Homo sapiens: one gene and its partners. The protein of the gene in region 1 interacts with the protein of each later gene in a biochemical or structural test. Each region holds a gene or a part of one and is shown in the gene's direction. Other genes may lie near its edges.

Region 1 (6,733 bases):
CCTTATTGCCTAGTTCGTCATCCACACTTTGGATCTTGTGAAAATGCTGTTAGTATCCAACCTTAAAATATATTAGTATATGGGTTTTTATTAAAAGAATTACTTTGAATTTTCTATTTAATTCATATGTAAATAAAGGAACATTTCATTTCACTTAAAAAAATTATATCAGTTATTAGGCTGGGTGCAGTGGCTCATGCCTGTAATCCCAGCACTTTGGGAGGCCAAGGCGGGTGGATTACCAGAGTTCGGGAGTTTGAGACCAGCTTGACCAACATGGAGAAACCCCGTCTCTACTAAAAATACAAAATTAGCCAGGTGTGGTGGCGCATGCCTGTAATCCTGGCTACTCAGGAGGCTGAGGCAGGAGAATCGCTTGAAAACCCAGGAGACAGAGGTTGCGGTGAGCTGAGATTGCGCCATTGTACTCCAGCCTGGGCAAGAAGAGCGAAACTCTGTCTCCAAAAAAAAAAAAAAAAAAATTATTAATACTTTTAAAGACTGAGCTGTTTAAGAATTTTTTGGGGAACATTTCTAGCAGTGATTTTTTTGGCCTTTAATGATAGCGTAAAGACAGGAGCCTTACAACTTAGGCAAAGCATTTCACATGCAGTCCTTCTTCCATCTCAAAATATGTACTTATTTTACATACAGAATTTTACACTAACCATTGAAAAATAAAGTAGGATCTGCTACAGTTTCACCTGAAAATTTATAAAAAGTGTTGAGATTGGTAGAAGGTAGTTTTTAAGTACATGTGCACTACCCTAAAAGACTTGTCTATTGTCAATAAAGTGTTAGTATTTGTGAAATTATTATTCCTGTTCAGAAATACTATTTCTTAAATCTCCTGGGAATTTGTGGCATAATAAAGCACATTCAAAGTTCTAATGTATTTATGAGCTCATTTTCAAAATAGTAAGTTTGTCATCTTTAAAATGAACATGACTTGCCTCCTTGATTTCTGAAATGAATTAATTGAAGATTGCTATAGTAATCTTTATTTCATCTTTCTAGAGTTGTTGACAATTTTATTATACAACAGTTACCATTAGAGAAGGAGGGAAGGGCTTTTGGGTGTGTATTTATAGGTACTAAGGGATTTACTAAATATAGTAGATTAGCACTGTCACACTTGTTCAAGTAGTTTCAAACATAGAAAATTAAGTATCAGGTATGTGGAGCAATGTAGTTTTTTTTTTTCTTCAGTTTAAAAAATTTTTAATTGTGGTAGAAGCAATGTATTCTTAAGGTGAAAAACCTACCTCGGTTACATGTGGTTTGTGTTTTTTGGATTAATCTGGATTTTATAATTAGAAATAAAAATGTAAGATTTTGAATCCACTTAATTTCTTGAAAATAGTACAAGTCAGTGTAATAGAGAAGCATTCATATATTCAACACTGTAAGACAAAACAGCAGAGACCTTGGATTTGATAATTGATCTGATATCCTGGACAGTATTCATATGTACAGTGATAGGTATCTTTCTTTGGAGTTTTTTTTTTGTGCATATGTGTATAGTTTTATGGGTTCTGAGTTGGTGACCAGTAAGTTGCATGTAGTGCTGGCACTTACTTAATAACTATTCATGATATTGTTAATAACTTGTTATAGGATTGTATTCCCAATTACAGTCTCTAAGATTGTAATTGATATTATCTGAGAGGTAGTGTGACAACTTTCTTTTGTTGTTACATTAAGCCGAAAACATAATACTAATAGACAACTAACAGTTTGCTTATCAGGCACATCAACTAAGGCACCTCCCCCCATGCTAAGTTTCTCCTGGATATATGGAAGTTGATTGTTTCCCAGTTTAAAAACTTGAACTAATATCTCCTAAGAAAATCTGAGTCCATATTGTTTTTATTTTACTTAGCTAGAATCTCATAGCATGTTAAAGTCATATCCTTATCCCCACTAAAAATAACTATGTCTATGTGAGAGGAATATAGTATGTGGGAGCTGTATTAAATACTATTACAGGTGTTACAGAATCTTTAAATAAATGGACATGGACCAACTTTCCATCTAGTAGTGTACGATCTATATAGTGCATGTCAGTAGCACAAAATGCAGTCTTAGCATTAGCCTGTCTAATCTGAATAGTTTACTCAAAAGTACTTCTTTGTGTTAAGTATTCAGCCACTGTTTTTAGATCTAGTTAATAGGTTCTATTTAATTTGCTACAACATTTACTGAATGGTGGAGTGAAAAAACTGATGCATACTGGGAAATATCTACCATTTTTTAAAGATAATGTTAATTAGGAAAAGAACACTTTTAAGGAATTTATAGCAGTGATGAAATGAATTCAGTTATATCAGATACACCAAACTGTTGATGGTATTTAAATGTGACTTCAAGTTAGTATTTCTGTATATATTATTGATTACTGGTTTGTTTTTAGATATGTAAGTCTGTTCTAATCTACAGTTCACATATCGACAGTTACTCTGGTAATAATAGAATGTTAGTGATGATCACTTGGTGGATGTTGATTAAGTGCCTGTGTTTTGTTTCCTCCTCTGGATACCAAATAGGTGTATGCTACTTTTTTGGTGAACTTATTTCTTGGAAGATTTGGCTATGCTATTCAGGGTTTTTATTCTTATGTTTTTCTTCTAAATTTAAGTAGCATCCTGCTGCTACCATATTAAAGCTAAAATTTAACTTTTGCTGAAGAATCAGCTAATTCAGGTAATCCAAATATTTGTGGAAAAACATCTGGATAATTTATTGAACACATTAGTATTGTGTTAGACAGCTTTGATCATTCCCATTTCATAGGTTTTTATTGTGGAATAGTCAACTTAATATAGATTCACTTTCAATTTGCATGTATAAAGTAATACTCAATAAAATTTTTTTCATTTATTTTTCAACAGTGGTTATTTTTTTTCTTCCTGTACTATCAGTAAAATCCTGACTATGAGTTTTACTTTTGAAGCTAAAGGATAATGCTGGTAATCTAATTATGTACCTCTTACAGAAACCATATGCAGCACTTTAAAAATCTTTATTTGGTATATTATTTTAGGTGGACAATGATTTAAGACTCAAAGCCATCATATTAAGGTCTAAATACATTAGTGGTGGGGTTTCTCGAATAAATGAGGAAGTGCACAAAAGTTCAGCCTGACTGAAAATTTTAATTGTGTTTTAAAACTACATGAATAATTTCTTGATTCAAAATCAGAACTCTTATAAACTAAATCTGATGGTGTCCAAAGAATTTCAGGTCCTTCAAAGTTTGTAAAAGATAAGTAGGGGCCTAGGAATATAAAAATTTAGACTTTTTTAGTAAATGGTTTACATAACCTTTTGTCTTAATTTGTCATTCTTCATACACAGGCACAAGCTAATCAGTCTTCTCTACTTCTAGAACTCTAAATCTTCTCAGTAATGTCATACAAGTCTAACAAGAGGAAAAGCATCCTTAAGTCAGTCTATTTAGATAAACTCTTCAAGTCCCTATATAAGGACGTATTCCACTAGCAAGCCAGTAAATTTTTCCAAGGTCACATAATCTTACATGAAATGGAACCTTTCATCTTAGACTTCATCAAACTCAATTTTTTCCCTTCTAGATTCACTTTGTGTTTATGCATGCATGCACGCGTGCACACAATTCTATCAGCAGCTGTAAACTACCCACATATTTTCTTAATCTCATTTTTTCAGTTTTTCTTCATCTTTAAAAGAGGTTACATTTCATTCCTGGTCAACTCTTAAAAAGAATTATGTAATGTTGGGCCTTCATATTAAAGAGAGAGACTGGTTATAAGATCCTTTACAGTCCATTCATTTTATTCTGATGTCTAACCAGATAGACACTAGCAAGCAAAACTTCCCTCTTAATCCTGGACCAAATGCATAATTTTACTGTCACTTTCAAAAATCTGTTATGACTGAATCAAAATCCTTTTAAAGAAAGGAAAAAGCTCCTTTTGTGTCAAATAGTTGAACAACATGAAAACAGTATGAGCCGGTTAAAGATAGATTGAATTTTTACTTTACACATATGAAAAACAGTAAGTTTTGACTGCTGTGTATGTTATTCATGTTAATATGTGCTCAGTTATTCACTATTGTTAATCCACATATAATCAGTTGCTATCCCTGGTTAGACACACTATGGAACTTGAAATGCACAATATTTACATTGTTAGAGGCTTCTATCCAAATATCTGCATTCCTTTAAAATGTGAACTATTTGCTGTGATTAACCAAAGGTAGATTATGTCATCAGTGGACATTTTAGCTTTATGGAAACAAATTATTAAGAAATGAATAGAAAGGTGTCTTTTTCTTTGTGTAGTGCAAAAGCCTAAAGCTATCAGTCAAAGGCCTAAGAAATCCACATTTGAAAAACGTAAATCATGATTGGTAAGAATACATTCATCTGATAGTATTGAGAAAAGTTGAAAAACTGTTAGCCTTCCATAACACATTAAACATTTTATGTATGGATGGCTGAAAGTATTGAGAAAAGCTGAAAAACTGTTAGCCTTCCATAACACATTAAACGTTTTGTGTATGGATGGCTTAGGACAATAAACAACATCATTAAAGTAAAATTATGTCAGTCTGTTCATATTAACTTATTTAAATCAATGAAAATTTTGATGAGATGACTAAATGGATGCTTTGGAAATGCAGGATTATAGGAGGCCTAAAAGTGCATCTTGTTTCTTGTAACCCTTTTAAAACCAATATGCCTGGCTAGGTGCAGTGGCTCATGCCTGTAATACCAACGGGGTAACACAGGGTTATGCCGTCTATACAAAAAAATAAATGAGCTGGGCAAGATGGCATGCACCTGTAGTCCCAGCTGCTTGGTAGGCTGAGGGGGAAGGATTGCTTGAGCCTGGGAGGTCGAGACTGCAGTGAGCCAAGATCACACCACTGCACTCCAGCCTGGGTGACAGAGCAAGACTCTACCTCAAAAATAAAAATAATCAATATAGTTTCAATGAAGCAAAGCATCTCAGGTAACAATTTGAGCATAACTTTAACCATAACTTATGATAGCATAATAACATTCATTAGTAATTCAGTAGCCGTATGTGCCAGGCTGTGTTAGGTGCTTTATATATTGTTTAATTTTTAAAAACTTGTGGAGTGTACAGATTGGTAAGGTGACATTGTATCACAAAGCTAGTCTTTGAGTCCAAAGTTTTGTGGTTTTATGTTATGATATACTTTTATCATGGAATTGTCTTATTAAATGTTTTGCCAGTGGTTCTTAAAGTGTGTTTCTGACACCAGTAGCATTGACTTCACTTAGAAACCTGTTAGAAATACAAATTATTTGGCCCCACCCAACACTTGAGTCACAAACTTTGCAGATGGGGCTCAATCTGTTTTAACAAGCGCTTCATGTAATTTTGATGCAGGCCTAAGTTTTTGAGCCACTGCAGTATGCATTTCTATTTTTAAGCAAAGATCTTGGTCTTTCTTTTTGGACATTGTAGAAATAACATGAACTTGTTTTTTGTTTGTTTTTGTTTTGTTTTGTTTTAAGCTCCTGATCTTTGTTGGTTATGTTGCAAAAGATTGTATCAGGAGAAGCCTCAGCATGGACATTGGCATCCTGACATAACCCCCATTAATTTAGTATTCTTTCTGAAACTCAAATGGATTCTCAAGTCCAAGAGACTATGGAATAAAATCATTGTTTGTCTGTGTTAAGTTTTATCTCTGTTATTGCCTGAAGACTTTTGGTAACAATAATGCGCTTTCATCAAACTTTTAAGACTTGATTGGAAAAAATAAATGTATGTTTCATCAGTTATACAATTTGTTTTGTATGTGTTTTGTATGGGTGGTCCCTGAGGAGCCTGAATCTTCAAAATATACTTTCTGTGAGCTCAGAAAATGAATAGCACTTTTGAGCTAATTGATCAGTGTGGAGAAATCACAGTGTTGCATCCTGATGAGTAAAGATAAAATTGACTCTTTATCGATTCAAGATCATTTTTTATATAAATAAATAAGCTACTCCTGTTTACTTTTTACAAACTTGAGAACAGTTTTAGATTTATAAAGTTATTGTGAAGATAGTACAGAGGGTTCTCATATGCCACCACACCAAGTTTCTCCTACTAACATCATACATTAATACTGTGCATTTATCACAGTTAATCGTCCAATATTTATGCACGATTATTAAAGTCCATACTTGATTCAGATTTCCTAAATTTTCCCCTAATGTCCTTTCTCTTTTCCAGTGTCCAGTCCAGGATACTACATTATATTTAGTACCTGTGTCTCCATAAAATTCTCTTGGCTGTGACAGTTTCTTAGATTTTCCTTGTTTTTGATGCCCTTGACAGTTTTTAGTTCTGGGCAGGTATTTTTCACTTTACTATGGATATTTCAGATACACAGAAAAGTACAGAAAATCGCTAGCAATATCCTGCTAATTTTTTGTTATCTGTCCTGCTTCCTTTTTCTTTTTTGTTGGGGTGTTTTAAAGTTAAACTCCAATTATCCTTTCACCTGCAGATACTTCAGTATATATCTCTAATAGTAAGAATTTAAAAGAATAACCACAATGTTATACCTAACAAAATTAATATTAATTATTTAATATCATCTGTTTACTTTGGGTTCCCTAAGAAGCAGGCATGCATGAGATTTATTGGGGGAAAACACTTGTGAAGAAAATTGGAGAGGGAGCTAGAGGAGGTTGAGAAAAGTGTCAGAACTTGATACAGGTCTGCCT
Region 2 (8,147 bases), on another chromosome or scaffold:
TGTCTGGGCCTTGGAGGGTCCCCCTGGGGCCCCACCCCCTCCAGACTAGCCAGGCACCACTAGGCCCTGCCTCCTTTTGTAGAGCCTCCAGCCTTATTTGGTGAGTTTGCTACTGGCCAGCCTCCCTGGAGCCTCCCCATGATGTCACCAGAAGGGAATGTAAATAAGTGAGCTCTGTGTCAGGCTAGGGAGAGTGCTGCAGGCTCTTTTGGGATCCTGAGGTCCCTCCTTCAGGAATTTCCTCGTTAGTGGCAGAGAAAGCATGCTCCCTCCTCCCCCTTCTCATGCTTCAGTGTTGACCCCTCCTGCTAGGGGTCGTTTGGCAAAAGTCAGCAAAATTCAGCCAAATTTCTTTTAACTCGCCGATTTCACCTCTAGGAATTAATTCATTGGAAAACTGTACATACATGGATGGAATGACTTAAGACTGGGGTAGTTGCTAGAACGTTTACCAGAATAACAGCCTTTTTTTTTTTTCCTTGACACTATCTCATTCTGTCGCCCAGGCTGGAGTGCAGTGATGCGATCTCGACTCATTGCAGCCTCGGCCTCCAGCCTAGCCTCCCGAGTAGCTGGGATTACAGGAGCCCGCCACCACCCCTGGCTAATTTTTGTATTTTTAGTAGAGACAGGATTTCACCATGTTGGCCAGGCTGGTCTCGAACTACTGACCTCAGGTGATTCACCTGCCTCGGCCTCCCAAAGTGCTGGGATCACAGGCGTGAGCCACCGCACCCCGCTGGGAACAGCAGCCTCTTAAATGGCCTTCCCCAAACCACTGCATCAGGGCTGGAATAGGATGCAGCTTGTAAAAAGAACCAGGCAGGGCCAGGTGCGGCGGCTTCCGCCTGTAATTCTAGCGCTTTGGGAGGCCAAGGCGGGAGGATCGCTTGAGCCCAGGACTTCAAGACTAGCCTGGGCAACATAAGTTGACCCCCATCTCTCAAACAAACAGAAATTCATAATTTTAAAAAAAGTATTTAGCCTTCTGTTTTTGCCGTGAAGCCTTGGAGGTCTGGTGTGTATTTCATGTCGCAGTTTTTCTCGGGACTGGCCACACCTCACGGGTTTGACAGCTCTGGGTGGCCAGTGTCTGCTGTTCTGACGGCACTGCTTCAGGTAGTGGTCTGGAACATTCTCAGAGATACATGAAGTGCAAGATGAAGGCCCAGAATGTAGCAATTTTTGTTTGTTTGTTTGAGACGGTGTCTGGCTCTGTTGCCGAGACTGGAGTGCAGTGGTGCCATCTTGGCTCACTGCAATCTTCGCCTCCCGGGTTCAAGTGATTCTCCTGCTTCAGCCTTCCAAGTAGCTGGAATTACAGGCGCCCACCAACGTGCTCAGCTAATTTTTGTATTTTTAGTAGAGACGGGGTTTTGCCATGTTGGCCAGGCTGGTCTTGAACTCCTGACCTCAAATGATCTGCCCGCCTCTGCCTCCCAAAGTGCTGGGATTACAGGTGTGAGCCACTGTGCCTGGCCCCAGCCCACACTTTTTTTTTGAGACGGAGTCTTGCAGTGTCGCCCGGGCTGGAGTGCAATGCCGCAATCTCAGCTCACTGCAACCTCCGTCTCCCAGGTTCAAGCGATTCTCCTTGCCTCAGCCTCCCGAGTAGCTGGGATTATAGATGCCTGCCAGCACGCCCGGCTAATGTTTTTGTATTTTTAGTAGAGACGTGGCTTTCACTATGTTGGTCAGGCTAGTCTTGAACTCCTGACATCGTGATCTGCACGCTTTTGCCTCCCAAAGTGCTGGGATTACAGGCGTGAGCCACTGTGCCCGGCTTCCCAGCCCGCATTTTTAAACATCATGAACTCTATCAGTAGAAATTGTCGGTGTGTAGGCCACGCTTGGGTCGTGTCTGGGTTGTGGCAGGCACTTAGGAAGTGGGTTGGGAGTGACACCTGAGACCATCACTGAGGAGGGCTTGCTGTGCCCCCACCTGCGCTGGGGGCTGGGGAAGTTACAGAGAAGCGAAGAGGGTGGGCTCAGCTCTTGGGGAGTTTCTTTCCCGGCTGGGGAGATGAGGCACGTTTCACATTCCGTAGAGGAACTGAGAGCCTGCCAGTGGCCTTGCCTCTAAGGAGCAAGTCTGTGGCCAGTGAGACCGGGGGCTGTCTGGAGGTGGGCGGCTGTGGTCTGCTGTTGCTGTAGGAGGACTCAGTGGCAGAACCTGAAATCTGGTTGGCAATAGCAAAACAGGGAAAGGCGTGGTTTACAGAACCAGGTTGTCCAGGTGTGCAGCGGCCGCAGGTGTGACTGGGTGCTGGTGCATATGGTGCCCTGTGTCCCCGGGGCCGAAGTCCACTCCAGCATGGAGGAGGCGCCCTGGCAGAGTGAATGACGGGGCTTATGTGCCACCCGCAGTGCCTGGTGGCTCCCCTCTCCTGGCCTGGTCTGTTCTTAGGCAGGCTTCTTAGGTAGCCTTCTACGTGGTGGCCCCTGCCGCGAGCCTGGATCCAAGCCCAGCAGAGGGAGAGAGAGATCCTCTCTTCCCAGCAGGCGTTCAGAGCCCTGTGGACTGGACCGGTCTCTTTGGGCTGGAAGGCGTGGTTTTCTGCTTGCCCAGGTCCAGTCGTGTCCCCTTCCACCCCTTTCCTGGGCCACTGAGTCCCACAGACTGAGAGTGAGCGGCAAAGGCTGCCCTGGGACAGCTGGGTCTGTTAGCAGGAGACAGCGTGGAGCCGGGAGGTAGGCACGCAGGAACCCGGTACCCAGCAGCAGCTGTCTGCTTCCTGTTAGAGCACCTGGGCTCTGGAGCCTGCAGCACCTGGTTTGAAGGTTTGAATCCTCCCGCCACTGACTGACTGCATGACCTTGGGCTAGTTGCTTTCCTTTTCTCAGCCTTGGTTTCTTTAAAATGCGGATACTGGCCAGATGTAGCGGCTCCACCTGTACTGCCAACACTTGGGGTGGGGGAGTGGGAGGATCTCTTGAGGCCAGGAGTTCCAAAGCAGCCTGGGCAATACGGCAAGACCCTGTCTCTACAAAAAATAAATAAATCAGGTGTGGTAGTGTGTTCCTGTAGTCCCACCTACTTGGGAGGGATCACTTGAGCCCAGGAGTTCGAGACCAGCGTGGGCAACATAGTGAGACCTCATCCTTACAAAAAGAAAAAAAAATTAATTGGGTGTGGTGGTATGTGCCTGTAGTCCCAGCTGCTTGAGAGGCTGAGGCAGGAGGATTGCCCGAGCCCAGGAGGTCAAGGCTGCAGTGAGCCATGACTGAACCACTGCATTCCAGCCTGAGCAACAGGGCCAGACCCTGTCTCAAGACAAAACAAAACAAAAACAAAAAAAGCGGATCTGGCACTTGCCTTGCACTTTTTATTTTTTTGAGGCAGGATCTTGCTACGTTGCCCAGGCTGGAGTACAGTGGCACAATCTCAGTTCACTGCAACCTCTGCCTCCCAGGTTCAAGCGATTCTCCTGCCTCAGCCTCCCAAGTAGCTGGGATTACAGGCACCCGCCACCACACCCAGCTAATTTTTTGTATTTTTGGTAGAGACAGGGTTTCACCATGTTGGCCAGGCTGCTCTTGAACTCCTCAGCTCAAGTTATCTGCCCTCCTCGAACTCCCAAAGTGCTGGGATTACAGGCGTGAGCCACCGCGCCTGGCCCCCTCAGTTCCCTCTTGATATGCATTGAACTGTTCATTCTTTCACTTTTCAAAAATACGCCGGTGCCATGGTGTTAACGTGTGGCTCTGCACTCCCCTCCACACACCTGCTGGGCATAGCCCTGGGAGGGGTGGGAACGCCGCGTCTGATGGTGTGGGGCGCTAAGGAATTGCTCTCTGAGAAGGCGCAGAGTCTGCACCCCCGCAGTGGCCAGCTCATGTCCTTCAAGTGCCTGGTGCAGGGCCGCGCCCAAGAGGAGCAAGTGGAGGTGACGGGGAGCCAGCCACCCCCACTTACTCCCTCCGCCTCCTCCACCCCCACTCACTCCCTCCCCCTCCTCCAGCGGCCAGTTTGCGATCGTGCGGAAGTGCCGGCAGAAGGGCACGGGCAAGGAGTACGCAGCCAAGTTCATCAAGAAGCGCCGCCTGTCATCCAGCCGGCGTGGGGTGAGCCGGGAGGAGATCGAGCGGGAGGTGAACATCCTGCGGGAGATCCGGCACCCCAACATCATCACCCTGCACGACATCTTCGAGAACAAGACGGACGTGGTCCTCATCCTGGAGCTGGTCTCTGGCGGGGAGCTCTTTGACTTCCTGGCGGAGAAGGAGTCGCTGACGGAGGACGAGGCCACCCAGTTCCTCAAGCAGATCCTGGACGGCGTTCACTACCTGCACTCTAAGCGCATCGCACACTTTGACCTGAAGGTGAGCCCTGTAGGGCCCTGTGGGGCCGGCCTGGCCAGTGTGGGGGTGGGGATGGGGCGGGGAAGAGCCTGGAAGGCACCTCCTGCGCGTGGGGGTGAGGTGTGGGGAGCGTGGGGGTGAGGTTTGGGGAGCGTGGGGGTGAGGTTGGGGGAGCGTGGGGGTGAGGTTGCGGGGAGCGTGAGGGTGAGGTTTGGGGAGCGTGGGGGTGAGGGTGGGGGAGGCCCGTGCTTTCCCTGCTGAGCCTCCTCCCACCCCAGCCGGAAAACATCATGCTGCTGGACAAGAACGTGCCCAACCCACGAATCAAGCTCATCGACTTCGGCATCGCGCACAAGATCGAGGCGGGGAACGAGTTCAAGAACATCTTCGGCACCCCGGAGTTTGTGGGTGAGGCCCTGCCCAGTGGGCAGCCCCGGCCTGGGGAGGGTGGTCTGGGGCTGCCTGCTGTGCGTGGGGTGGGTCATGCCCGGTGCTGGGTGCCGCGTCCTCGGCCCTGAAGCCACCCCTCTTGGGCCCGGCTTTGCGGGAGGTCTGGGCCTCCATTTGGTGCAGCCCCGCTGTCCTACCCGTCAGGCCCTGAGGGCCAGCTCTGCCGCATTCATGCCCCCAAGGGCTGCGACATGTGAGAACCTTGACCCCATGCCTGTGTCTTGAGCCTCTTCCTTGGCCAGCATGTCCCCAGTGCCTGACCCACATCTCCCTGTTCTGCAGCCCCAGAGATTGTGAACTATGAGCCGCTGGGCCTGGAGGCGGACATGTGGTGAGTGTACCACCTGCTCCCACCGGGCCTCCCTGCATTCCTGGAGCGCAGGCCAGTGCTGCAGCTGGGGATGAAGCGGGGCCTTGCTGCTGTTGGGGTATGGGGGGACCGTTGCCCTAGAACAGGGGCGCTGGACGCCACGGTCCTGGGAGGGTGGGCGGCCCCACGCTGCGCTGACCCTTGCCTCTTGTCTGTCCCCAGGAGCATCGGTGTCATCACCTATATCCTGTGAGTACCTGGCGGGGGCCCCCTCGGCTGTGCAACACAGCTGGCATGGGTCCCCGGCTCCGTGTGTCTCATGTGGACGCCAGGGGTCCCCAGCCTGGCTGTGACCCATCGCGGGTACTCAGGGGATACCGGGTGAACGGATGAGTGATTCTCTGTGGCTGCTGTCACAGAGGCTTCTGGAGAGTTCTGAAGGCAGGACACTCACAGAGCGGCTGAGCAGGCTCCGGGTTGGGGGTCGTGTGTGCTCCTGTCCCTCTGGCTGCTAGGGAGCCCAGCCTCCTCTCGAAGTGCAAGGAAGGGGTCCGACCCCACGCTGGGTTTTGGCTCCTGTCCCTGGGCCACACGTGGGCCTGCTGTTGTTTATTATTTTTATTTGTTGAGACGGGGTCTTACTCTCTTGCCCAGGCTGGAGTGCTGTCCTAGCTCACTGCAGCCTCCACCTCCCAGACTTAAGCAATCCTCCCACCTCAGCCTCCTGAGTACCTGGGACTACATGTGCACACAACCATGCTCCCATGCTCGGACTTTTTTTTTTTTTTGATGGAGTTTTGCTCTTGTTGTCCAGGTTGGAGTGCAGTGGTGCGATCTCAGCTGCTCACTGCAACCCCCACCTCCCAGGTTCAAGCGATTCTCCTGCCTCAGTCTCCTGAGTAGCTGGGATTACAGGCGCCCACCACCATGCCCAGCTAATTTTTGTATTTTTAGAAGAGACGGGGTTTCACCATGTTGATCAAGGCTGGTTTTGAACTCCTGACCTCAGGTGATCTGCCTGCCTCGGCTTCCCAAAGTGCTGGGATTACAGGCGTGGGCCGCTGCACCCAGCTGGCTAATTTTTTTTTTTTTTTTTTTTTTTTTGAGACAGAGTTTCGCTCTTGTTGCCCAGGCTGGATGAAGTGCCAAGGCCCCGTCTCAGCTCAGGCTTACTGCAACCTCTGCCTCCCGGGTTCAAGTGATTCCCATGCCTCAGCCTCCCAAGTAGCTGGGATTACAGGTGCCTGCCACCATGCCTGGCTAATTATTTGTATTTTTAGTAGAGACGATGTTTCACCATTTCGGTCAGGCTGGTCTTGAACTCCAGACCTCAAGTGATCCGGCCGCCTTGGCCTCCCAGAATGCTGGGATGACAGGTGTGAGCCACCGTGCCCAGCTGGCTAATTTTTAAAAGTTTTTGTAGAGGTGGAGTTTCACTGTGTTGCCCAGCCATATTGAATGGGCATAGCTCATTCAGTAAGCAAGGAAATAAACAATGGCGTGGGCCCAGCCCGCTGTAGTGCGTGAGCGGACCCAAAGGCTTCAGGAGATGGGCTAGACCGTTTGTATTCTTTTTAAATGTTCAGATAATTCAGACTTACAAAGGAGCAACAGAAACAGCACAGACGCCCCCTGCAGCTTCCTCCTCCTTCAGTTTACATTTTTCATGAACACGAACGTTATGAACACCAAGACGTTAGCCTTGGTGCTACGCTAATCACAAAAGTGCTAGATGGGCCGGGTGCGATGGCTCACGCCTGTAATCTCAGCACTTTGGGAGGCTGAGGAGGGCAGATCACGAGGTCAGGGCATTGAGACCATCCTGGCTAACACGATGAAACCATGTCTCTACTAAAAATACAAAAATTAGCTGGGTGTGGCAGCGGGTGCCTGTAGTCCCAGCTACTCAGGAGGCTGAGGCAGGAGAATGGCATGAACCCAGGAGATGGAGTTTGCAGTGAGCCGAGATCGCGCTACTGCACTCCAGCCTGGGTGACAGAGCGAGACTCCGTCTCTAAAAAATTTAAAAAATTTAAAGTGCCAGAGGTGGTTAGACACCCCCGTTTTCCACTCCTGTCCTCTCTGAGGTCCCCACACGGCATTTAGCCATTCAGCTCCTTCGCCGCCTCCAGTCTGAGGCTGTTCCTCTGTCTGGCTTTCATGACCTTGACCCTGACTTGTGCTCACGGGTCAGGTGTTTTGCAGAAGGCGTCTGAGTCCACGTTTAGTCTCGTGCGCTGTCACGATCAGACGATCAGACGGGGCTTCAGTGTCTCTGCTCAAAACCCCAGGGATGATGCTGTGTCACCCTCCCAGCGTCAGGCTGGGAGGCAGACGCTGTTGGGGCCTCTCACTGCCGGGCTGTTGACCTTGATCCTTTGGCTAAGGTGTTGGCTCGGGCTCCCCACTGCAGTTACCCTCCCCTCGGCGTTACTGAGCACTGGGGGCTTTCGGGCTCTGCGTCTGCACAGATACTTCGAGTCTCCAAGGAGACTTCTGCCTGTTCATTTCTGCTGCTGTCAGTGGCGGGGTGGGGGGGTGGATTTTGAATGCCTCTTGGGTGGTGTCTGGGATCGTTGCAGGAAGGTTCTAAGGGCTCAGGAGTGTGAGTGGCCCAGGCACCTGCCGTCAGCCTGTCTTCTGTGCTCCGCCTGTCGTGGGCAGCCGGAGAGGCGGCGCGGCCGTGGTGGGAGCCCAGGACCCCACTGAGCCCCCACGCCTGTCTCGCAGCCTGAGCGGTGCATCCCCGTTCCTGGGCGAGACCAAGCAGGAGACGCTCACCAACATCTCAGCCGTGAACTACGACTTCGACGAGGAGTACTTCAGCAACACCAGCGAGCTGGCCAAGGACTTCATTCGCCGGCTGCTCGTCAAAGATCCCAAGTACGAGGGGCCGGCAGGGGGCACGGGGTGGGACATGGGACACAGGCCCACTCCACCCACGGAGGCTCCAGAGGACTCTCCTCCCAGCGCCACCTCCCTGCGGCTGGGGATCAGACATTGCTTACCCCTTGGGCTGGAGAGAGTAAACTGATAAACTGGTGGCCCAAGCTGGCCATTGCCATGGTTTTTTTTTTTTTTTTTT
Region 3 (8,147 bases), on another chromosome or scaffold:
GGTTGATCCCAGTCCTGCCACTTCCTGGCTGTGTGACCCCAGGTTATGCAAGTTATGCAACCTCTCTGAGCCCGGGCTGCTATTGCAAAGAGTGCTGCGTATGTATGCAGTATGTATGCATGTGCTGTGTACATAGGTAGTTTTGTGCATTTGAGAACATATCTGAATAAATGCTGGAAGTAGAATTGCTAGGTCAAAGGGTCTGTATATTTGCAATTCTGAAAGATGGTGTTAATTTGCCATTTGCCGAGGCTAAACCAGTTTATATCCACTTTAGCAATGTATGAGTCTGTCTTCTGTTCCACACATTCTCCAAGCATGCGTTATCCATTTTTTTGACCTTTAATAAGCTGATAGACAAAAATGGCATTTCAATGGAGTTCTAACTCATTTCTTTTTCAGTATACATTGAGTATCTTTTCAAAGGAACCATTTGTTTTTGTGTAAACTGTTGATATCTTTTCATATTTTGTACTTGTATTCATTTGTAGGAGTTTGACATATATTTGTTGGTAATTTGTGTTGCAAATTTTTTCTTATGTTAAAACAAGTCTAACTTCTTTTACAAGTGCTTTCAGCTACACCGTTTTGTTATTTCCCATTTTCATTTCTTGTTTTACATATTTCTGTCTTCTCCCCCATTAAATGATTATATGGTTTATGTTTTATGTGTTTTTAAAAATTTAGTTACTTATGCATTTAAAGTATATTTAGTGATATGTGAAAATGCAAATTACATAATTTTTAGGTGAAATAATCTAAATAAAGGCCCATTATACCAATTTTTAAAAAGAAAATTCATTATAATTTATAGACCAAAAAAAAAGAGAGAATAAAGCAAAATTCCTCCAAAAGCTGACAATGTTTATATCTGGTTAATGAGATAGGAGAAAGAGGTGAATTCTAGTTTTTGTCCTTTTTTTGTATTCTCTAAAATTTAGACATTTATTTAACCTTTTCTAATTAATGAGCTTTATTTCTTCAGAATAGTTTTAGATTTAAAGAAAAACTAAACAGATAGTACAGAGAGGTCCCATATGCTCACTCCATTTATCACCCTAGTTTCCCCAATTATTAGCATCTTACATTAGTATGGCACATTTATCACAACTAATGAACCAGTATTGATACATTATTATTAACTTATTTTAATAATTAATATTAATAATTGTTATTAACATATTTTTTCAGATTTCCTTTTTTTCTCAGATTTCAGTTTTTACCTAATATCCTTTTTCTTCTCTTTCTTTCTTTTTCTTTCCTTTTCTTTCTTTCTTTTTTTTTTTTTTTGAGATGGAGTCTCCCTCTGTCACCCAAGCTGGAGTGCAGTGGCACGATCTTGGCTTACTGCAACCTCCACCTCCTGGGTTAAAGCAGTCCTCCCACCTCAGCCTCCAAAGTAGCTGGGACTACAGGCGTGTGCCGCCACACCTGGCTAATTTTATTTTTTTAGTAGAGACAGCATTTCACCATGTTGGCCAGGCTAGTCTTGAACTCTTGACCTCAAATGATCCACCTGCCTTGGCCTCCCAAAGTTCTGGGATTACAGGTGTGAGCCACCAAGCCCAGCCCCTAATATCCTTTTTCTGTTCCAGATCCCATCCAGGATACCACATTATGTGGAATTGTTAGGTCTCCTTAGGGCCCTCTTCACTATGATGGTTTCTCAGACTTTGGTTCCGATGACCTTGCCGGTTAGGTCAGGTATTTTGTGGGATGGCCTCCAGATGGAATTTGTCCTTTGTTTTTCTCATGATTAGAGTGAGGTTATGGGTTTTGGGGAAGACACCCAAAGGAAGATTTCATTATATCATATCAAGGGTACACACTATCAACATGATAGATTAATATAATAGTAATATAATAATATAACATAATATAATATGATACATTACATGATTAGCTTTAATAGTTTATATGTTTTATTGATTTTGTTTTGTTTTTGTGGTAGTTTTTCCCAAAGAACCATCTCTTTAGTTTTTGCTTAGTTCTATTATTTCCCTATTTTATTATGCTCCATTCATTTTTTAAAATTTAATAGCATAAATATATCAGCCATGATTTCCTCTGAGAACTGCTGTAGAGGCACCCCGCAGGTTCTAGTATGTGGAATGCTTTTTGTTATTGTTGTATTCCAGATATTCTGCAATTTCTATATGGATTTCTTTTTTGATCTGAGTTGGGGTCAAGTTGTTTAAAGAATTTTTTAAAATGCCTAAGTGATAGGATTTTGTGATCTATAATTTTGTGATTAATTTCTAGTTTTCCTTCTGTGTTATCAGATACTGTATTATTTTTGCTTTTTTTGAAGTTTTGTTTGTGACCTAATATACAGGAAAATTTTTTTGATCATTCCATGAACACTTGAAAAGAACATGCATTCTTTGTTTTCAAGGTATAGAATTTGATGAACACATTAGTTAGATCTGTCTTATTAATTATGTAATTTGGTTTTTCTATGTCTTTACTTAATTTTGGTCCACTGGTCCATCATGAGCTAGAAGAGGGAAATTAAAATTACATGCCTCTGATGTGTGTCTGTCTAAGGCCCCTCCTTATATTTCCTCTAGCTTTTGCTCTGAATTTTGGTGCTATTTGGTGAGTTCGGTCTTCAATTGTGGATCGCATTCTTTATTATTATTAAGTATTCTTGTCTCACTTAAAACCTTTTGTCCTGAAATCAACTTTACTTGCCTAATATTAAGATTACAGTGCCTGCTTAGTTTGAGTTCACACTTCCCTGTTATGTGTTTGCCCTTCCTTTATTTTCAAAATTGTTAAATCACTTTGCTTTGGGGAATGTCTCTTATATGTAGCATATGGTTGGGGGTTTTGTGTTTTTCCCCAGTCTTATAATCTTTTTTTAGCAGTTTACTATGGCCATTTAATGACATGGTCAATATTTCGGTCTTAGTTTTACTATCATATTTCATGCTTTTATGCCTTTTTGCCTCTCTTGCTTTCTAACAAAATCTTTCAGTATATGATCTGTTTTATTTTGTATTATGTTCAAGGTTTGTATCTGCAAGATGTGTATTTTTATTTTTAGTTCTGGAGGTTACCTTTATAACTAGCCAAAATGGATTTAATCTTTTGTTGAGACCATGCTAGGTGTCTCCCTTCTGAAATAATCAATCACAAAATTAGTTTACAAATTTGGTTCCCATTTTTATCTGCTTTGTGGCAGCTTTTTTCAGGTGAGTTTGCTTGGTTTGCCATGTTTTGTCCTGTTCGTTTATTCCTTTCTTTCTTCTATAGCATCTTTGACTATATCCTGTGCTGGTTCCTCTTTGAAAGAGGTAAACCTTCTTGGATCAGCATTTTGCAGGAGACACATGTGGAGGAGGTACCAAGAAGAGGGCAGGATTGCTCCCTGGTTCCCAGGAACTTTGTTCACAGGGTTGTTGTAGTGACTTCCTTTAGTCTTTGCTTCTACTCTGTCAGCAGAGTTCTGCAGCTGTGGGCTTCTCCCAATTCAGAGCCCTCCTCTCACTCTGCCTTGCCAACACACTGCTTCCTGTGAAGATGGCGGGTCTGTGGTTTCCTCTGTTGGCCCTGCCCTCCTCTTCCCCCAGGGTGTAGGAGGCAGCTCCCACTACCAGACCACATGCCCTGTTCCCATTTTTTCTGATAAGGGATCATTAGTTTTTTCCTTCAGGGAATGCCAGCTCCTGGCTGGCTCTGCCAGCTTTGTCTGAGATCTGCCACCACAGGTGTCTTCTCTAGGTGTTTTCTCACAGTATTTTTGATCTTCACTGCTTTTGGTAGCCCTTACCTGTTTTGGGCAGCCTTTCCTTATAAGCTGTGTTTCAGGTTATAAATGTGTTCTAGTTTGCTGAAGAAGGAGTTTGCATTTCTTTTTTTCTCCTGGATTTTGGGTGATTTCGGATATGAAAAGGAGTAACTTTATTCTGCTATCTTAAAACTGCCTAGTGTTGCAAATTGTTATGTGTTCTGGTATTCCCTCAGATTGAACATTAGCCAGAGCTCTCGGAATAGGGTCAACATCTGCTGAAGCTGGGATCTGACAATAGAGAGGGAAGAGTATGAGAGTTAAGAATAAAATGGAATGGTGAAAAACCCACAGGATACTTGTCTGTGCTGTGTGGCAGCAGAGTTCTTTTCGTCCCTACCTGGACTTTGGCTAGGGGTGTACCACTGTCTGGGTGGGAGGTTGAGGCTGGGGAGGGCAGGGCATGAAAAACACCCATCCATCTCCTCATCTGGCTCAGGAGAAGTTGTTCTAGGCCCAGCAGCTCTCAGGCCAGGGAGGGGAGGGCACACGCCTCTGCTCTGGACAGGGCTTGGCTCTCCATCTCTCTCCATACCCAGGGCCCGTCCAAGTAGTCCGAGCTCCTTGGGTTCTGTCTGGTTTCCTAGTGATGGTGGCCAATTCCTTCTCCATGAAAACCAGGATCCTGTCTCAGGGAAGGCAGTCTGGGGTCAGTGCTGTTAATGGTATTTACCTGATCGAACAAAGAGCTCACCCATCCAAAGGGAGGGGATCCACATGGGATGCCCAGAGAACAGAGCCAGAGAGGAAAACCTGTCGGCAGAGTTCCAGGACCCTTTATATTATGGTCTCTCAAGTTCCCCCATCACCAGAGGGAGGTGTTTTATCCTCATGTTTTTTACTGGCAAGAAATCTGGAGTATCCAAGAGGCTAGGAGGCTTTCCTGTGGACCCACAGTAGGAGATGGAGAGAGGGATTTGGACGCAGTTCTGTCTGGCTCCAGAGCCTGGACACCGGCTCCCTTATCCTTCCTCCTCACCTCTATTGACCTCCATTCACCTTCCCATGGAGCTCTCACCCCATCTTCCCACGCTGCCTGATGTCCATGTCCCTGGTGACCCTGCTGCACCTTGTTCTGTGTCTTGCCGCTCAAGCCTGGCTACATTTTAGGAGGTTATTTAGGCTCCCCAGGACTCCAGGGTTGGGAACCAATGGGCCACACCCTACAGCCCTGTGTCTTGAGCAGCTGTGTGCCCCCCAGCCTTGGCACAAGGCTTGTCCCCTGGGATCAAAAGCACCTGGGTTCTCATCCAGGCTCTGACCTTGAGCAAGTCACAACTGCTCTGGGCTCACGCCTTATTTCTAAAATCAGACTCCCTATGATTGTTCTAGGTCCGGAACACAGACCCTGAAGCCAGATGACCTTGGTTTGAATCTTGGCTCAGTCACTTATTTGCAGTGGGACTTCGGCTAATCGCTTATCCTCTCTCTGACTTCAGTGTTCTCATCTGTAAATTGTGAATAATAATGTATATCTCTTATAGGGAGATGTTAAGGATTAAACAAACTAATAAACATAAATAATTTAGAACACTGGCATATGGCAGGTGCTAGATTAGTGCCAGATATGAGTGTACGAATTATTACTATTATTGTGCATGCAAAGGGCTCAGCCAAGGCATGGACATAAATGAAGGGATTGGCAACTGGCTGCTGATGCTGCTGCTATAACCCGTGCCCTTTGCTTCCTTCCAGGAGCTTGGGCCCCTGCCGCAGCCCGGTAGAGGCTGTGGAGGTCTACCGTCCGGAAGCCTGGTTCCCAGCCCCGTGGCCCATTCCTGGCTACGGGGAGTGGAGGCTCCCACGAGGTAGCGGTGGCCTGCAGCGGCCTCCTCCCCGCAGTGAAGCATGGGCCAGAAGCTCTCGGGGAGCCTCAAGTCAGTGGAGGTGCGAGAGCCGGCGCTGCGGCCGGCCAAGCGGGAGCTGCGGGGTGCAGAGCCCGGGCGGCCGGCGCGGCTGGACCAGCTGTTGGACATGCCAGCGGCGGGGCTGGCTGTGCAGCTGCGGCACGCGTGGAACCCCGAGGACCGCTCGCTCAACGTCTTCGTCAAGGACGACGACCGGCTCACCTTCCACCGGCACCCCGTGGCCCAGAGCACCGACGGCATCCGCGGCAAGGTGGGCCACGCCCGCGGCCTGCACGCCTGGCAGATCAACTGGCCGGCTCGGCAGCGCGGCACCCACGCTGTAGTTGGTGTGGCCACGGCCCGTGCTCCCCTGCACTCCGTGGGCTACACGGCGCTGGTAGGCAGTGACGCCGAGTCGTGGGGCTGGGACCTGGGCCGCAGCCGCCTCTACCACGACGGCAAGAACCAGCCCGGCGTGGCCTACCCGGCCTTTCTGGGGCCCGACGAGGCCTTTGCGCTGCCCGACTCGCTGCTCGTGGTGCTGGACATGGATGAGGGCACACTCAGCTTCATCGTGGATGGCCAGTACCTGGGCGTGGCCTTCCGAGGTCTCAAGGGCAAGAAGCTGTACCCGGTGGTGAGTGCCGTGTGGGGCCACTGTGAAGTCACCATGCGCTACATCAACGGCCTTGACCGTAAGTTGTGCTGGGCTGGGGGGCAGGGCTTTCAGAGGCTGCCAGGCCCTAGGGAAGCTGGGCAGGCCACACCTCCATCGCCACTTGGGAGGATCCTGCAATGTGGAGGAATGGTCAGGACCTGGGTTTCAATCCTGACTCTCTGCTGGCTTGGTGATTTGGGGCTGTGCCTTAGTTCTCCCATCGGCAAAAGCATCACGATGATAGTAATCTAGCTCACAGTTGTAACGATCAAATAAAGTAATAGTAATCTAGCTCACAGTTGTGAAGATCTAGATAACATGTGTGAAGTGCTCAGAACAGTGACTGGCACCCAACAGGGGCTTTGAGTGTTGATGCCAATTACCAATCTTCCAGTCTGTACAAAGGTTGTACCAAATGACCCAAGCTAGTCACAATGGGAAGACAGTGACAAGTCCCCAGTCCCTGCACTTAAATGCCATGTACTCAAGTTATTGATAAGTAATAAGTACTGATAACCGTCCTTTATTGGCCATCTACTGTATTTGAGAGGCTGAACACCCCAATTCCAGCGCTTATGGGCCAACTATTAAAGGGGACAGCTGCCTCTTATCTCCAGCCGACTGTCATCTCACGGGAATGAAAACCCTGGGTTGTGGAATCTTGTGACTTTTTCCAAGAGAGCCCAGAAATCTAGCTTGTGTGAACTGTTCCAATTTTTAAAGTTGACAGCTGCTGAAAAGTCTATATGGGCAAACAAAATACCCTTGCAGGCTACAAACCAGCCCACAAGCTGCTGGGGTTGACCCCTGACAACTCTATGGCTTCCTCTCATTTAATATACACAACCATCCGGCAAGATAAAAAGTGTAGGAACAAAGACGGTTATTGGTTTTGGGAGGGAGTCACTCAGGGAGACAGGGTGGCCTCTGGACAGAGGCACACGTGGCTGCCTGTCCTGAGTTGAATCCCAGCTGAGGGGCCAGGAGCCAGGCACTTGTGGGCTTGCACACTCCCCAACATCAGCCCACTAGCACCAATCCAGACTTCCTGCCACACCCCAATGAAGCTCTCAGAGGTGGCGCTGAAAGCTAGAATTTCCAGTTTATTCATTCTAAATAAGAGATGTAATTACCAGCCCCTGAGGCAGATCCTCCTTTTAGAAATAAGAAAACTTAAGAGCAGAGCTACAGAGAGCCAGAATCAGGGTTCCCCCCAGTTCTGATGGCCCTGAAGTCCACTCGTTTCCTATGTTCTCCCCTTTAGATGAGGGACTGAGAGTAACACTCCAGAAAAGAGTAACACTTCTCCAGAAAAGAAGTCAAGGACAAGATTTTACTCAAGCAAAATTTACATTTACTGGAGCACAGGAAGGGGACATTTGATGGTTTCCAAGGGTGGCAGGCTAATGGAAAAGTGGCTGCTGGTATGCTCAGCACTCTGGCATAATTGTCGACATTCTTGCTCATATTTTATTTCCGTGGTTGTTGCCTACAATTGCCATTGAATGGCAAAATGTTGTTCCATTTTCTCTGTTTAATGGGTTAAATCTAGGAACTGATGATTATGTCCCTGAGAAGGGCTAATTTAGTCATCACAGTGCCTTGTGGAAAGTGTCTGGAGCCTTCTGAGACATAGTGACCAGGCAAATCCCAGTGGTGAGAAAACCAACAGAAACAACAAACAATCTTTATTTAATGGAATTGGAAAATTTATTTGCTGGAATTAATCACTGGACTAGAAGAGTGGCCTTGGTGTACCAAGGCTCTGGAGTCTGATGTGACTTATTTCCAAGTGCTCAGTGGTTTTGTGTCTTTGGTGAGTCACTCTTACTCCTTAAGACTCACTTTA
Region 4 (8,791 bases), on another chromosome or scaffold:
GCACAAATAAAATCTCTGCTTACGATTAAGCTGGAATGGCGGTCAAAAAAGAAAAGGGAAAAAAAATTCCTAGATGCAGGTAGATTTCTATAATTAAGCCATTTCTCAAAGGGGAAGTAAATGTGACAGAATATTTAGCAAGCAAATTTACTGAGGAATATTTTGTTCCTATATAATTAAATTCAACACTGAGGTAAAACTGACAACTATTAAACTGAGGGCAGTTGGGAGAGGGAAAGGGGATGAGATAAAATCCAGTCTATAAAACATTCCATTATCTTTTATAGGTTAAAAAACACAAAAGAAATACTTGGAAAGAATTGTCTAAGACGGAAAGATTTTAAGATTGTGTGACTTTTTTTTTTTTTTTTTTTTTTTTTTTTTTTTTACAGGTGCAGAATAATTTTTTTTCCCTCTCTCGTGGTTTTTCTTTTCCCCATTTTTTTCCCCTGTTGTTTGCAAAGTTGAATCTGGGGTCAGGAGTTCTAATTGTAACCTCAGACTGGAATTCCAGATGGTGCGCTCAGGACTGGAAGCAACTCTCAGTTCATCAATTTCATGGGCCTACGTATCTGCTCTGGCCACGGCCTGGCCTCCATCCCCACTGTGGCATTAATGCAGAACAAATTGAGACATATCCTCTATATAATTAGTTCCAGAATTTAAAAAGATTTACGGTATAATAATAGAGGCAGTGCCGCGGAATCCTTTCACTGAGGACTCTCGGGGAGCTCGGGGACCATCTCGCGGTGGCATCAGAACAGACGAGTAACCCCAGCGGCTCCAGGCACTGCGAACTGGGGGAGAGGGGGAAATTTTGCACCGCATTCGGCAGTACCTAACGGTTCCGGGCTCCCAGATAGGGTCAGCGAGGAGAGTTAGGACAGTAAGTGGGGACTGGTTAAAAAAAATCGACTTAATTTTGAAATGATCAGAAGAAGCTGGGAGTAGTTATCACAAAGCCCCTCCCTTGCCCCCCCCTTTTTTTAATTGAAGGAATGACGTTGAAATTTTCACCGCCAGCGCGGGGCTGGGAACCATCCTAAACACTTGCCCTGCAGCCCCGAGTGGGCAGATTCCGAAGAGTTGGAGTCGGCGGGGAGGGGAGGAACAGCTGTTGGGCTGTCTTGCGCGTGGGGCTCGGGGCGCGGGCCCCGGGGAGAGGCGCTAGTCGAAAGCTTGTTCCTCTCCCGCGACAGGCAGCAGCGAGGTCGAGCCACTCTTTATTACGGCCTGCGGGCCCCGCGCGCAGTGTGGCTGTCCCCGCCCTTGACCGACCGCAGCGCTTTGGGGTGTTTATTCAGTTGTCCGCGGCCGCTGGGTGACTCCCGGAGGGCGGCCCAGGCGTGCGCACTGGTCCCTGGGGTTGCGGCTGTAGCAGCCCAGCTCCGCGCTCTGTCAGATGCAGTGGACAGCGCCGGGGTGAAAGTAAGGGTTGAGAAATCCTCACTGCCCTGCTCCTACCCAGCCTCGATTTTTTCATATTGCAATAATTATGCACCTTCGAGGCCGGGATGCCTGCGCTTTGCCAGTGTATCAACGCCACATGGTTTTCCAGGGGCTGTCCTCGCCTCTGCATCCCATTAGCTCTGAAGAGGTAGAGGGGTGGTGGGTAAAACCTCCAACTGGACGTTGAGAGACCCGGGTTTCAGCTCGGCGTTGCCACTAACTTGTTTCCTGTCCTTAAACAGTAGTAGTAACAAAAACTGTAAAGTTGATTGAGTCAAAGGCCCACACTGCTCTCCTATCTAATCCTCAGAACAACTCTATGAGGTGGGCGCTAGTATCCCATTATCCCGTTTGACCAGTAAGGAAACTGAGGCTCAGAGAGACTGCGGAACTCGTCTAGGGTCACACAGCTGTTGGTTACCTGGCAGAGCTGAGGTTCCATTCTGGGGCCACCAACCCCTTGCTCTTTACCGCTGCGCTCCATAGACTGCCTCTCCTTCGGCTGTCTGGGCCTCAGTTTCCTTCTCTGTAAAACGAGAAGTTTAATCTGCAGCTTTCTTTGCCAATCGGTGGTTCAGACCAGGAACCTCTGCTACAGATCTCGGCGCTGACAGGGGTAAGAAGGTGGGTGAAAGAAGGGGGCGCCCAGTTTTCCACAGCCTGCTTTTCTCTGGGACCTCGCGAAGGGCGGGCCTCGCGAGCTAAAGGAGGTACAGGAGAGCGCCTATCGTCCGCGGCGGGTGAAGGTGCTACCTGCCTTCGTGCTAGGCTGTGAGTCCTGGTGCTTAGCTCAGGGCGCCAAGGCCAGTGTAGCTGGCATGTCCCCCTTGGAAAACCTCAGGTCTCCCGCAGAGAACGTTACCCACAACAAAGAAGAGGACAGAGAGGCATGGAGCGCCCTGCGACTGCAGGAGTACGTCAGTTCCCCAGCGCTGGCTTAGTGTCGCCTGGGCTTCCGGGCATGTGGATCCGTTGGGGTCGTACGGAGACTTCCTGTCGGGTCCCTGGGGTCCTCCGACTGCGGCTCCTCAGCTTAGCACTTTCTTCTTGGCCCCGCAGGCTGCAGGGAACTCCTCCCACCTCTTTAGTCGGAGAAGTCCAAGTCGGGCGAGGGGGCACCCCGGGGTTCGCACCGGTGCTCTTCCCCTCCCCGCCCCCACAAGGATTCTGAGAAAATAAATGGCAGAGGAGAGAGGAGTTCTACATTTGCTTGGCTCTCCTTTCCTCCTATCCACCCCTACATCCCTCACCCCGGGGCAAAAACTTATTTTTGAAAAATGTTGGCAGAGATTTACGTGTCTTTGCCTTACCTGGGTTTCACAAACACAACGACTCACATTCAAGCCAGCCTCCCTTCAGATAACCTCCTCTCCCCCCGCTAAAAGTGCCAAGGATGGTAAAAGAAGAAACAATCTCAATCTTTTCGTTTGGAAATGAAAGTCCCCGGCTTTTCATAAAGGGCTCCTCGCCCCTCACAGTTGAGTCCTAGTTAAGAAAAACGACTTCCAAGTAGAAATAATAGGCGGGGAGAAGGAAGGGAGATACAGGGATCTGGGGGGTTCTTAGGGCAACTGGCAGTGAATTTTGTCTCGAGAGTCCTTTCTCCACTCAAAAAACCAAACGCGCGAGCCCCGCGAAAGGTTTAGGGATAGATCGTGTGGGAGAGGACTGAGCAGAGAGCGTGGGGGCAGTGTCTTGTAGAATCTTTCTTTTCTTAATAATAATTTTAAAAGCTTCTGAGTGGAGACGACGCAAAGTCAAGCAGCAAAGGTGGCCTGGGAGGCAAGCGGAGGGCTCAAGTGCCGCATCTTTACCCTCAGGGTCTCCTGCGCCTACGGGATGCGCATTCCCAAGAAGTGCGCCCTTCGAGTAAGTCCTGGGCCCGCACACACTTCGGGTCCGCAGCCAGAATTTAATGGCGACAACGTTTATGCAATGCAAGCTAAAAACCAAAGCGTAAAAAATTACTATGTCATTTATTGAAACGCCATTCTTTGTCAAACTGCAACTACTTTGCTTCACATAAGTTTGGCTGGAAAGCTTGCAGCCCCAGCCCGGGCCAGCCAGGTACAGGAGGCCGGACTGCAACCGGTTGCTTCCCTCCCGTCGCGCCTGGCCGTCCCACGCTGCGCCGTCGCTGCTGCCTCCTGGCGCCCCTGGGATTTTATACGCACCTCTGAAACACGCTCCGCTCCGGCCCCCGGTTCTTCTCCTTGCCTAGGGGTTGTTTCCCAATAGATACTGACTCCTTTAGAAGATCCAAAAACCAAACCAAAACACCCCCTACCCGCCCCAAACACCTGCTCTGGGGCGCGGGGGCTGCCAAACAGAGACTAGACGAAGGGAGTCAGATTTAGCGAAGCTCTTCGAGCTCCCAAAGATTCGAACACTAACTCGCGCCCGTGGGCCGATGGAGGTTCTCCCTACTCCACTCCTTGGTCCCCTTAACTGGCTTCCGCCTCCTGGTCAATCACTGAGCAACCAGAATGGTATCCTCGACCAGGGCCACAGGCAGTGCTCGGCGGAGTGGCTCCAGGAGTTACCCGCTCCCTGCCGGGCTTCGTATCCAAACCCTCCCCTTCACCCCTCCTCCCCAAACTGGGCGCCAGGATGCTCCGGCCGGAATATACGCAGGCTTTGGGCGTTTGCCCAAGGGTTTTCTTCCCTCCTAAACTAGCCGCTGTTTTCCCGGCTTAACCGTAGAAGAATTAGATATTCCTCACTGGAAAGGGAAACTAAGTGCTGCTGACTCCAATTTTAGGTAGGCGGCAACCGCCTTCCGCCTGGCGCAAACCTCACCAAGTAAACAACTACTAGCCGATCGAAATACGCCCGGCTTATAACTGGTGCAACTCCCGGCCACCCAACTGAGGGACGTTCGCTTTCAGTCCCGACCTCTGGAACCCACAAAGGGCCACCTCTTTCCCCAGTGACCCCAAGATCATGGCCACTCCCCTACCCGACAGTTCTAGAAGCAAGAGCCAGACTCAAGGGTGCAAAGCAAGGGTATACGCTTCTTTGAAGCTTGACTGAGTTCTTTCTGCGCTTTCCTGAAGTTCCCGCCCTCTTGGAGCCTACCTGCCCCTCCCTCCAAACCACTCTTTTAGATTAACAACCCCATCTCTACTCCCACCGCATTCGACCCTGCCCGGACTCACTGCTTACCTGAACGGACTCTCCAGTGAGACGAGGCTCCCACACTGGCGAAGGCCAAGAAGGGGAGGTGGGGGGAGGGTTGTGCCACACCGGCCAGCTGAGAGCGCGTGTTGGGTTGAAGAGGAGGGTGTCTCCGAGAGGGACGCTCCCTCGGACCCGCCCTCACCCCAGCTGCGAGGGCGCCCCCAAGGAGCAGCGCGCGCTGCCTGGCCGGGCTTGGGCTGCTGAGTGAATGGAGCGGCCGAGCCTCCTGGCTCCTCCTCTTCCCCGCGCCGCCGGCCCCTCTTATTTGAGCTTTGGGAAGCTGAGGGCAGCCAGGCAGCTGGGGTAAGGAGTTCAAGGCAGCGCCCACACCCGGGGGCTCTCCGCAACCCGACCGCCTGTCCGCTCCCCCACTTCCCGCCCTCCCTCCCACCTACTCATTCACCCACCCACCCACCCAGAGCCGGGACGGCAGCCCAGGCGCCCGGGCCCCGCCGTCTCCTCGCCGCGATCCTGGACTTCCTCTTGCTGCAGGACCCGGCTTCCACGTGTGTCCCGGAGCCGGCGTCTCAGCACACGCTCCGCTCCGGGCCTGGGTGCCTACAGCAGCCAGAGCAGCAGGGAGTCCGGGACCCGGGCGGCATCTGGGCCAAGTTAGGCGCCGCCGAGGCCAGCGCTGAACGTCTCCAGGGCCGGAGGAGCCGCGGGGCGTCCGGGTCTGAGCCGCAGCAAATGGGCTCCGACGTGCGGGACCTGAACGCGCTGCTGCCCGCCGTCCCCTCCCTGGGTGGCGGCGGCGGCTGTGCCCTGCCTGTGAGCGGCGCGGCGCAGTGGGCGCCGGTGCTGGACTTTGCGCCCCCGGGCGCTTCGGCTTACGGGTCGTTGGGCGGCCCCGCGCCGCCACCGGCTCCGCCGCCACCCCCGCCGCCGCCGCCTCACTCCTTCATCAAACAGGAGCCGAGCTGGGGCGGCGCGGAGCCGCACGAGGAGCAGTGCCTGAGCGCCTTCACTGTCCACTTTTCCGGCCAGTTCACTGGCACAGCCGGAGCCTGTCGCTACGGGCCCTTCGGTCCTCCTCCGCCCAGCCAGGCGTCATCCGGCCAGGCCAGGATGTTTCCTAACGCGCCCTACCTGCCCAGCTGCCTCGAGAGCCAGCCCGCTATTCGCAATCAGGGTAAGTAGGCCGGGGAGCGCCCCCTACGCGCGGGGCAGTGGCGCCAGGGACTCTCCGCTCTAGGACACCCCCCTCTCCTACCCCTTTTGACCGCAGCTCTTACCCAGCTGCTTCCCAAGGGCCGTGAGGATAGCGGAAGCGGCGGCTGGGGAGGAGGCCGGAGAGTGGGAGTGCACGCAGGCACTGGCCCCCGACATCCTCCAAAGCCAGGCAGAGCTAGGAGCCTGACTGTTCGCAAGAGCCGGGAGGGCGTCTGGGGCCCCTTAGAGTCCGAGAGATTCCGGGACTGCTAGTCCCCACGGGAGTGGAACCAGGAGACCGGCGCAGTGTCTGGCTCTGCCTTGGGGAGAGTTTTGTTAATTAAGGAAACGCCAAATTGTCACCAAGCGTAGCGCTTTTCAGACGTCTGGACTCTGGATTCGGAGTGGGACCAGCGCGGGGGTGAGCGCCTGTGCTGTGCTGCCTCCGCAGCGCTAAAATGTCCAGGAGCACCTCCAGCCCTTATAATACGGTGTTGGCACACACTTAGGTGCACATTAAGTATCGTAGAGAACTAGAATGAGCACATGCACCTCCAGTAACTAAATGGCTTTCTGGAACAGCGTCGTGTCCGTGGATAGCTCCCGCGTATGGTAATACAGAAGTGGATCTTCACTGGGCTTCGCTCAGGCGGCGGCCACGCAGGTTCTGGGGATGGAAGAGAACTTGACTTATCCGAGTCCAAGCTATGCGGGACCAGGTTCTACCGCAGGCAGTGGAAGGAGGCACGAGCTTTGGCCTTTCTTTCAGCGCATCTGGGGCGCCTCTTCATCTTGTAAACGCGGGGCTCAGCTGGGACAGTATTTCTTCAAGACCTGGGGTTAGAACAAGGACAGGGTTATTCGCTGTGCTTAGTCAGGATACAAGGAGGGAACTCGGCACACGATAAGTATCAGGTTGGTTTCTCATCCCGCGCCGATGCCCGCCCACCTCTCTTTCGCCTGGGCGGCGCGGACCCGAACCTGCGGAGCCCCTGTAGTTTGCCCTCTTCATTTATTTTCAGTGGATTTCCACGCTATTGAGAACCTAAGCCAGTTCGGTTTGATTCGGTAATTTAGTAAACGCTTTACTAATACAATGGCGGATGCTTTTCCTGGAGCAAAATTACTCGAGGGCCTAGGGACCGGGATGTTTTTGGAATGCGTGGGAAGCAGAGTGTATCTTTTGCAGGAGGTACCTTCGCCCAAGGCTCGGGAGAAGGGCTCTGCCCTTGTTGCCCGCCTTCACCCGCGCCTTCTAAACGCGCGTCTTCAGGCCGCTCCTACCTTAGCCTAACCAGGAGCACCCGGCCCCCGCGAAGCCTTGGAGAAATCGAAACCGCCCTTTTCTTCGGGAGAATCTGGGATCACTGTCCTGTGGAGGAACCGCAAGCAGACCCAAGGGTTGCCTCCACTCTATGCTTTTAGTTAGTGAAATTAGTGTTTTGTACTCAAGGGGCGTTGGGACAACTTACTGGTCGCTGAGGCTTGTGTTCTTTGATCAGATCGCGCCACCTTTGTTTAGCAGGCTGGTGTTACTTTTGGGGAGTTTCTAGGTCTCAGTGTCCCCGTCTATAAGAGGACAGCTGAGATGGGCAACCTGGAGATTGGGTCCGGCTTGAAGTTATACTCCATAGATGCAGAAGCGCTACCCACCACCCTCTTGGGGCTTTAAATATGGAACTCGGCAACCCATCTAAACATCTGTGACTGAGAAACAATGAATCCGAGAGCACTGTCTGCATGTGTGCTATTTGGAGGCGGTTGAGAAACCATCGAATCCATGCCCCTGGGGCACAAAATACTACTACGCCATTATCTTTTTAGTACTTCTAGGGGATTTTTGAAACCTGGGTTCTGTCGCTTCGTTTGGGTCCCTTGTCCAGCCCTTTTCAGGGCAGGTCTGGTGCCTGGGATCTTATCACATGTCGTGGGGGGTGGGACTGTGGGTTTTGCAGCCAGCAGGCATTACACTTCTGGAAAATATCTGGATTCTTCTGTAATATACAGGCGTGGCTGCCATGGAGAAAAAGTTAAAAGGGGACCAGGACTAGTAGGTGAATGTATCCTTCTTCTCCACCCTGGAGAAAAAGCCCAATGGAGAGAGGGCCCTAGATTCAAGTCATATAGCCTGGAAGCACCATCTCCAGGTTTAAGTTTTGTCTTGCAGTGAAAACAGATGGGTCCATCTTACCCAGCCCTTGAGGCTCATTGGGCAGCTTGGATGTGAGAAGCGCTCCGGCTGCTATCCTGGAGTGGGCAAGGGTGGCCCTCGAGATTCTGGGTTTATTCTTTGGATTTCCAGGGTTCCTGCTGCTTCCCCAGGAATGCAGGGCCTGGCCCAAGACTTGGGCTGTGAGAGGCAAGGGCATCAACTCTCAAAAATGTGGAAATGGCCATCAGAGCGCCAAGGCCAAACCCCAGGGGAGAGGAATCAAGGCCGTCTCTGGATCCCTAGGGCAGTCTAGCCATGGTGCACAGGCAGGGGCAATTGTTGGTACCCACTCACAACCGCCCAAAACTTCACAAGCATGTTCATATTTTAAATTCTTAAATATTATATCTTGCATCCTAATCTTGTAAACATTAATTTAGCAAACATCAATCGCCTACTTGGTCAGGCACTGGGTTCTGAATATTAATTAAGACAATGGCCTCGAGAACCTTTGCAAGAAGCTCACCAGCTAATCCTGGAGAGGCCCCTTGTTTTGGATGAGGAAATCCAGGTTCTATGAGATTAGGTGGCAGAGGTGGGATTTGAACCCAGACCATGCTAGGGTGTTTCTACTCCTTTTCCAGGGATCTTGGCCCCACCGTTGAGATGGATTTCTTCTGGCCTGCGGGAGGGGCACCAAACTCTTAGTCCATGTGTGGGGGTTGACGGGTTTGTGAGGGCAGATGTGGGGTGAGGACTTGAGTAGCCCCAGACTAGATGCAAGGCTTAAGGAGGAGGGGAAAAAAGCTTGCTTGGGCCGGACGCGGTGGCTCGAGGCGGTTGGATCACCTGAGGTCA

What was found.
Region 2: of the proteins of PAWR (region 1) and DAPK3, one has a biochemical effect on the other in vitro, tested with the Homo sapiens proteins (2 studies listed by BioGRID).
Region 3: the proteins of PAWR (region 1) and SPSB4 interact in a biophysical measurement, tested with the Homo sapiens proteins (one study listed by BioGRID and IntAct).
Region 4: the proteins of PAWR (region 1) and WT1 form a complex in vitro, tested with the Homo sapiens proteins (one study listed by BioGRID).

Annotation. Positions count from the first base shown.
Region 1 is NC_000012.12:79,583,946-79,590,678, reverse strand, and holds the end of PAWR (PRKC apoptosis WT1 regulator protein), read left to right. Parts: 3' UTR 1-5,800; downstream 5,801-6,733. UniProt on the Homo sapiens protein: Pro-apoptotic protein capable of selectively inducing apoptosis in cancer cells, sensitizing the cells to diverse apoptotic stimuli and causing regression of tumors in animal models.
Region 2 is NC_000019.10:3,960,807-3,968,953, reverse strand, and holds part of DAPK3 (death-associated protein kinase 3), read left to right. Parts: intron 1-3,962; coding exon 3,963-4,323; intron 4,324-4,580; coding exon 4,581-4,710; intron 4,711-5,034; coding exon 5,035-5,083; intron 5,084-5,284; coding exon 5,285-5,311; intron 5,312-7,441; exon of another isoform or gene 7,442-7,540; intron 7,541-7,792; coding exon 7,793-7,945; intron 7,946-8,147. UniProt on the Homo sapiens protein: Serine/threonine kinase which is involved in the regulation of apoptosis, autophagy, transcription, translation and actin cytoskeleton reorganization. Involved in the regulation of smooth muscle contraction.
Region 3 is NC_000003.12:141,060,464-141,068,610, forward strand, and holds part of SPSB4 (SPRY domain-containing SOCS box protein 4), read left to right. Parts: intron 1-5,488; 5' UTR 5,489-5,641; coding exon 5,642-6,335; intron 6,336-8,147. UniProt on the Homo sapiens protein: Substrate recognition component of a SCF-like ECS (Elongin BC-CUL2/5-SOCS-box protein) E3 ubiquitin-protein ligase complex which mediates the ubiquitination and subsequent proteasomal degradation of target proteins.
Region 4 is NC_000011.10:32,431,670-32,440,460, reverse strand, and holds the start of WT1 (Wilms tumor protein), read left to right. Parts: upstream 1-4,921; 5' UTR 4,922-5,100; coding exon 5,101-5,761; intron 5,762-6,420; exon of another isoform or gene 6,421-6,696; intron 6,697-8,791. UniProt on the Homo sapiens protein: Transcription factor that plays an important role in cellular development and cell survival. Recognizes and binds to the DNA sequence 5'-GCG(T/G)GGGCG-3'. Regulates the expression of numerous target genes, including EPO.